Linked DNA regions of Homo sapiens. The protein of the gene in region 2 interacts with the protein of the main gene of each other region in a biochemical or structural test. Each region holds a gene or a part of one and is shown on either strand. Other genes may lie near its edges. The genes, in order: CREB1 and RGS13.

Evidence for each region.
Region 1: the proteins of RGS13 (region 2) and CREB1 form a complex in vitro, tested with the Homo sapiens proteins (one study listed by BioGRID).

Annotation. Positions count from the first base shown.
Region 1 is NC_000002.12:207,536,357-207,540,184, forward strand, and holds part of CREB1 (cyclic AMP-responsive element-binding protein 1), read left to right. Parts: intron 1-3,828.
Region 2 is NC_000001.11:192,646,126-192,649,953, forward strand, and holds part of RGS13 (regulator of G-protein signaling 13), read left to right. Parts: intron 1-1,800; coding exon 1,801-1,862; intron 1,863-3,828. UniProt on the Homo sapiens protein: Inhibits signal transduction by increasing the GTPase activity of G protein alpha subunits thereby driving them into their inactive GDP-bound form. Binds to both G(i)-alpha and G(q)-alpha.

The DNA.
Region 1 (3,828 bases), on a different chromosome or scaffold from region 2:
CCAGCCTGGCCAACATGGTGAAACCCCGTCTCTACTAAAAATACAAAAATTAGCTGGGCATGGGGGCAGGCGCCTGCAATCCCAGCTACTCAGGAGGCTGAGGCAGGATAATCACTTGGACCTGGAAGGCAGAGGTTGCAGTGAGCTGAGATTGCACCATTGCACGCCAGGCTGGGCGACAAGAGCGAAACTCTGTCTTAAGAAAAAAACAAAAGCTGTCATGGTATATTTCGTTTTTTGTATTCCCAAGTTGGTGTTTATGCGTTGATCATATATACAAAGTTTTTAATGTAAGAATATTGTTTTGAGGTTTTACTAATATTTGATTTAAAATATTACTATGTGCTATTTGGCCAGGCGTGGTGGCTCACGTCTGTAATCCCGGCACTTTGGGAGGTCGAGGCGGGCGGATCACTTGAGGCCAGGAGTTTGAGACCAGCCTGGCCAAGATGGTGAAACCCCATCTCTACTAAAAATAGAAGAATTATCTGGGTATAGTTGTATACGCCTGTAGTCCCAGCTGCTTGGGAGGCTGAGGCAGGAGAATTGCTTGAGCCCTGGAAGTGGAGGTTGCAGTGAGCCAGTATCACCCCACTGAACTCCACTCTGGGTGACAGAGCAAGATGCCATCTCATAAATAAAATATTACTGTGTGCTATTTGTACCTGCTAAATGATTAAAATGTTTACAAAGTGCTTTGTTGTTGTTGTTGTTGTTGAGACGGAGTCTTTCTCTGTTGCCAGGCTGGAGTGCAGTGGTGCGATCTCAGCTCACTGCAACCTCCGCCTCCTGGGTTAAAGCGATTCCCCTGCCTCAGCCTCCCAAGTAGCTGGGATTACAGGCGCCTGCCACCATGCCCAGCTAAAGAGACAGGGTTTCACCATGTTGGCCAGGATGGTCTCGATCTCCTTGACCTCGTGATCCACCCACCTCTGCCTCCCAAAGTGGTGGGATTACAGGCGTGAGCCACTGCGCCTGGCCTACAAAGTGCTTGTCTTTACATATTTGGGGATGGGGGTGGGGTAGATCATTGAAATCTGTAAAGGCAGAACGTTTTTTATCTGGAACATATCTGTAGACTAACAGAGTTAAATGATTTCCCACAGTGTCATGGAATCATCAGTGGATTGCCTCTTGGGGTGGAGGCAAAGATCATTAAAGCAGCAAACTGATAATGTGAACGTGGTTGTTTTTTCTCTGCCAATTAAATATATGCTAGTTTAGTCATTATAGAAGAGCCAGATGCTGGTCAGCTTGTTGAAGTTGTAAGTAGAAGGTGTGGTTTTATCACATCTGTAAATGTAGGTTTTTGAGACAAAACTTAAATAAGAATAGACGTTAGTTTTTATTCACATTCAGAATGTCTGACTCCCCTTAATATATACACACTCTTGTCTTATCTACTGGGTTTTTTTGTTGTTGTTTTTTGTTTTGCCTTTTCTCTCTCTCTTTTTAAGCTCTGCCAGACAAGGCCCTATGAAGATAGGTTTTACAGGTTGAGAATCTTTTATCTGAAATTCTTGGGACCAGAAGTATTTCCAGTTTTGGGTTTTTTCAGATTTTAGAATATTTGCATATACATACATAATGAGCTATCTTGGGGATGGGACCCAAGTCTAAACATGAAATTTGTTTCATATACACATTATACACATAGCCTGAAGGTAATTTTATACAAAATTTTTAATAATTTTGTGCATGAAACAGTTTTGACTGTGAACTGTTACATGAGGTCAGGTGTGGGAATTTTTCATGGCATCATGTCAGTGCTCAAAAAGTTTGAGATTTTGGATGTTTTATTAGGGATGCTTACCCTGTATTATATTTTGCCCAGATGTTTCCTCATTTGTCTTCTAGGCTACCAGAAAGATGTTAGCTTAGAAAAACGTATTCTGGCGTTTATTCCAACAGATGAGAAGGCAGTTTCTCCAGTGATGAATAATTACCTATAATTTAATACGTGCATTATACATCTCCAGTGATGAAAAATCACTGTGTATTAAAAAATTCTTGAAGCTAGGTACATAATCTCAACTCCTAAAAAAGAAAATAAACAGTAGTACTCCTTGATGAACTTACAGATGCTAAGTTGCCTTTTCTTAGAGTTGAAATAAGGTGATAAAGGAGTTTACCGTGAGACTAGCTGTGTGAACAAAGATGAAAAACACCCTTTCAGTTTTCTTCCTCTTGGATGATTCTAGGATCTCTAAAAAATAATCTTAAAAGGGGCGAGGTTTTGAGAGGATGAGGTCTAAGGAATTGATGGTGAGTTTTTTCTGAAAGAAGAGAAGTGACATTTGATTAGATAAGAAAGGGTTAAAAGGGAAGTTATTAATAAAATAGTTTAGGAGTAGAGTGGATCTGAAAGTTGACTTATACCAATGATGATAGAATGTGTCTTTTCCCAAAGGTTAGTGCATCTTCTCTGAAATGAAGACGTTTCTTTCATCAATTTTAAGTGAATTTCTAAGGATCTGGTTATCTACTTGTGAGTTTTTGGTTGTAACTGTATGACAGTACAGATGTAACTAAAAATGTTTGTAATTTACCCAAGGTTAAATAACCATTATTTTTGAGGGCTGTTATCCCTGTTGGTATAAGTAAGTAGTTGGCAGTAGGGGACACAGAAATACCTTGTTTTTCACCACTGAAGTGAAAATTACAGATTATTCTGAATTATTTGTACTCTTTTTTTTTTTTTTTGAGAGGAATCTCGCTCTGTCTCCCAGCCTGGAATGCAGTGGTGTGATCTCGGCTCACTGCAACCTCCGCCTCCTGGGTTCCAGCGATTCTGCTGCCCCAGCCTCCCAAGTAGCTGGGATTACAAGCATGTGCCACCATACCTGGCTAATTTTTTTTTTTTTTTTTTGTATTTTTAGTAGAGACAGGATTTCACCATGTTGGCCAAGCTGGTCTCGAACTCCTGACCTTATGTGATCTGCCTGCCTCAGCCTCCGATTACAGGCATGAACCACCGCCCCCAGCCCTATTTGTACTCTTAAAGGGGAGTCATTTTCTTATAATAAGTATCAGTAGTAGCTCTATTGTTTGCTGTGATCAATGGTGACACCTTGACTTTATGTATTGCCATTTATCAATCATTTATTCAGTGAAGATTTATTGACCATTGACTTTATTATGGTTGGTGAAATAATCGCAAGAAAATTTATTCAGTTAGGTATTTATAAAAATACCTAGGTATTAAATGAAGATTGTTCTAGTTGATATAAGCAATAAAGCCTGACTATATGGCTCCTACCCTCAAGAATCTTACGGTATAGTAGGGATGATGAAATAGTGTAAGAATGATTTATATGTGCCAGAGTACATGACAGAGTTTTTACTGTCTTGAAGAGCTACAGAGTTCAGAAGAGAAGGGGCTTAGTGAGGAAAAGTTTTGTGGGAGAAGTAGAATTCAAGTTGAATACTAAAGAACTTCAGTAAGTACAGATAAAATGGAGTGTATTCTAGGCAGTGGAATGGACAAAAAAATGAAAACATGGACATATAATGAACTTGACATACTCATAAATTGGTGAAGAAAGTATTAGATTATAGATCTACATTTTGAGGAATGCTGAGTATGAGGCAGGGAGCTTTGAGTTTCATGTAAGAGAAGGTAAGATATAAACAGGAATACAATGATAAATTGGGCTGAAATGTAGATTTCCTGACTCCCAATTCTTCTCCTTAGTGTAGACAGAGATATACAGTCATGCACTGTATAAGAACGTTTTGGTGAATGACAGATTGCATATACAACAGTGGTCCTGTGCTAGTGTAAGCAAACCTATTAAGAACTTCAGATAGGTCCTTCAGGAGGTATTC
Region 2 (3,828 bases):
TCTTAACACAGTACACTGTTAAGCCTCAGTACTGATGCAAGCAGTCCATCCAAAACTGGCAGGATCCGTCTGAATTTTTAGAAAACAAAAGATATCTGACCTTTTAAGGACTCCCAATATTTTTCCATGTTCTCGGATATTTTTTAATCTCTTTAACTAATCCTCCTTCATTGTGTTAAGAACCTGCTAATGCTGATGGCTGTTCCTGCAGCACTAATTTTTAGGCTGCTAATTTTAGGTATAGCCAATGGACAGTGCTTGCGTGTCTATAGCCATCTTCAATTATCTAGTTGTTGAAAGCAGAACAATTAAGAATGCACCATAAACTGAATGGCAATAAACACATTGCCTATTTCTGTTTTATTTCCAACCTTTATTCTAAGTTCATGGGTACATGCGCAGGATGTGCAGGTTTGTTACATAGGTAAATGTCTGCCATGATGGTTTGCTGCACAGATCATCCTATCACCTAGGTAGTAAGCCCAGCATCCAATAGCTATTATTCCTGATGCTCTCCCTCCTCCCACGCCCCCACCCTACAACAGGCCCCAGTGTGTGTTGTTCTCCCCAATGTGTCCATATGTTCTCATCATTCAGTTCCCACTTATAAGTGAGAACAGGCAGTATTTGATTTTCTGTTCCTGCATTAGTTTGCTGAGGATATGGGCTTCCAGCTCCATTCATGTCCCTGCAAAGGACATGATATTGTTTCTTTTTATGGCTGCATAGTATTCCATGGTGTATAAAGTTACTTGTATTTGAGAATACAGTCATTTGCCAATTCACCTCATGAAGCTCACCAAAATGAACAGAGTTCTGGAATCTTTCACAACTATTTTCTAAATGGTAAATGGCTTTGTTTATACCGTTTAGGTAAAATGTAACTTGACATAATACACCTTAATAAAAATTAAAACTGATACAAAAAAATTCTAGCAAGTAGGAGACTGAGAAAATACTAGCTTTAGGGTTACTAACTGTATTACATGAGTGCATGCAAATAGGTTTTGTGGATTAACTCTAAGATTCTAATAGATAAATAGGTAAACACTTGGCTGGTGGCAGCGGCAAACAGTGCATAACCCTTTTAAAAGCAATTTGGCAGTCTGTACCAAAAACCTTAAAAATCTGCCTCTTTTAACCAACTTTGATTCTACTGCTAGTGCCCTGGAATTACTCTAATCATGTGGCCATGGCAAGCCTTAAACACAGCTGGGCTACATTTGAGTTTTTATGGTGAAAAATGAGAGAAAATCAATATGCTGTTTGACAATAATTATGTAAACTATGGAATGCCCCCCTTGTAGCATATTTCACCATCACCATAAACAATATGACTATCAATGATTATACATTTGTAATTATAAATTATAACACTACAAATGATTAATACAATTATGATGACATAAAATGCATAAAGTATAAACACACATAGTGTGATTACTTCTTGATTAAAAACACACAAATACAAACATAACAAAAAGACTTTAAAAAACTACATCAAAATACTAATAGTGGTAATTTATTAATAGGGAGATTATAGGACTATGGTTCTGAATAATATTTATTAAATTATATTTTCAAGTCTACACTATTTGCACAATTTTTATAATTTAAAAAATTTAAATAGTAAAAATAAAATGTAAAATATCACAGGAAAATAACTTTCCAACCAAAGCCACACACAAATGGAATGTAAATATATTTTGGTGTCATTTTCAAGATAATATAATTTTACTTAGTTCAACAAAAACCTTGAGAATATTTAGCCCAATCAGTGCTTTTTGTTTCTTTTCAAAGCCTTACTTTGGAGGAAGTATTACAGTGGGCCCAGTCTTTTGAAAATTTAATGGCTACAAAATGTGAGTATTGCGTATCTGTCATCTTTGAATAACTAGCGAGTTCCATTCTTAGAGGTAAAGGTGGGGGTGCCAGATGATGAATGTATGCTATTCTTCTCACAGCCTTCTAACTGGCAACTGACACAGTTAAAAAAAGAAAACCTGAAAATAGTTTGTTATGTCAACCACTATTATTTTCTCTGGTGTTAATTAAAACAAGATTAGTCACTGTGAATATTCTTCACAAGTATATGCACAAAATCCCTTGGAAAATATGCTTAAGTAGTAACGCATACCATAGCCTTCTAAAGTTAGTATTAAACAAAAACACTTAACTCGCTGTTCTTGCTGCCTTCAAAAGTAAGAATAAATTTGAGTCTTGCTGTTCTAAAACTCCTCCCCAAAGTTTGTTTCAACTTTTTCAGTGTCTGATTTAAGTGGGACTATACATGGGTCTGAATATAGTTGTAGGTAAGTATCGACATTAACATGGTACAAATAAGAGATACCAGCAATGGATGTGACAGAGACAAAGTCATGGGCTCAGTGCAGGAAAAATAAAGGAGGACGTGCATTCAAAAGAATAGTCAATTGCGTTTGGGGTCAGAAAAGCTGGTCCGTTGTAGAAAATGATAAAACCAGAAGACAGGTACAGAAAAAAAATGTAGGGTGTAGACACAGAAAATTCTCTTGTTGAATTTGGTAGTTTTTTTTAAATGGAGTTGGTTCCCCTCAATGCTTGTTAATTTTTGCCTATAGAACCATCTTTTTATTTAAGATCCCATTTTAGCCTCTCTGTGAATGTTTTATCTGTTTAGAGCTATGGACTATGAAGGAGAGTTGGCTGTGCTACTTACATGCTTTAACTAGTGGGGTGTACCAGTGGCTATTCTGGGCAAGGTACCCCCTGTTCCTCATGGGGGTTGTCATAGTCCTGAGGCACTACCTGCTCTTTCTGACTCAAGACCCTCTTTAGTATGGACTCAGTTGTCACTGCCCAGCCCAGAGGGTAATGGCAGTAGGTGTAGACACTTGGCTACTCCTGCTGAAACACGTTAATCAACCATTCTGGCGCTTACTTCTGCTTCATCCCTAGGGCTGGATCTACCTCTACAGGCTTGGGTCACCACCTGAGCTCTCATATTTTGTAGCATGCCTTTCCAATGGGCATTTGGGGCCATAGTTTCTTTCTTTGATGCAATCGCCACTGGCTTTCACTTTTCAGGTATTCCTCATAGTTTATAATCCAATTTGCCAGCATGAATGTGAATTTTAAACAAATATATCTTCTGGGTCAGTGTTAGAACATTGAAATGTGATGAAGAGACAAAAGTGCATATTCAGTTAACTATATTGTAAATTTTTGTCCCAATCCTCTGTAATACACATTTTGCCACCTTGCTAGATTGATCTCTTTCTTGGAGTTTCATACTCTTCATCTACAAAATGGGAATAGTATCACTTATCCTTTCAGGTTTATTGTGCAGGTGAGATACAAAACATCTAGCTCAATGCCTAATATAGATTAAGCACACAATAATTGGTAGTTTCTTTTAATAGTAATAAAGTACATGTCTTTGAATATCATTCTTTTTTCTCTGCTGCCTACCAACAAGTCCAAAATCTTGGTATTTAGTACTCTCTACACCCTAACCCAAAACATTTTCTAAAATTTGTCTCTAGCTATGACCTGTCACATAACATGCCCTCCACCAATGTGGGTCACTTCATTTTCTACTTGTACATCTATGATTCTTCTCCTCCAGGCTTTTGTTCAAAGTCCTTTTCATCTCTAGTTACTCTGCTCATGTTTGAAAGTCAAATTCAAGTGCCACTTTCTCCAGAAAACTGCTTAGTAATTTCTCCTTTATCTTCTATTTTGTTAGTATTAACATTTATTCTGCTTTTAATTGTAGCCAGTTTGTGTATTGGGTTTTTTATATAGTGGCTTTCTCCCTAGATTATAAATTCCTTAAGAGCACAGCTT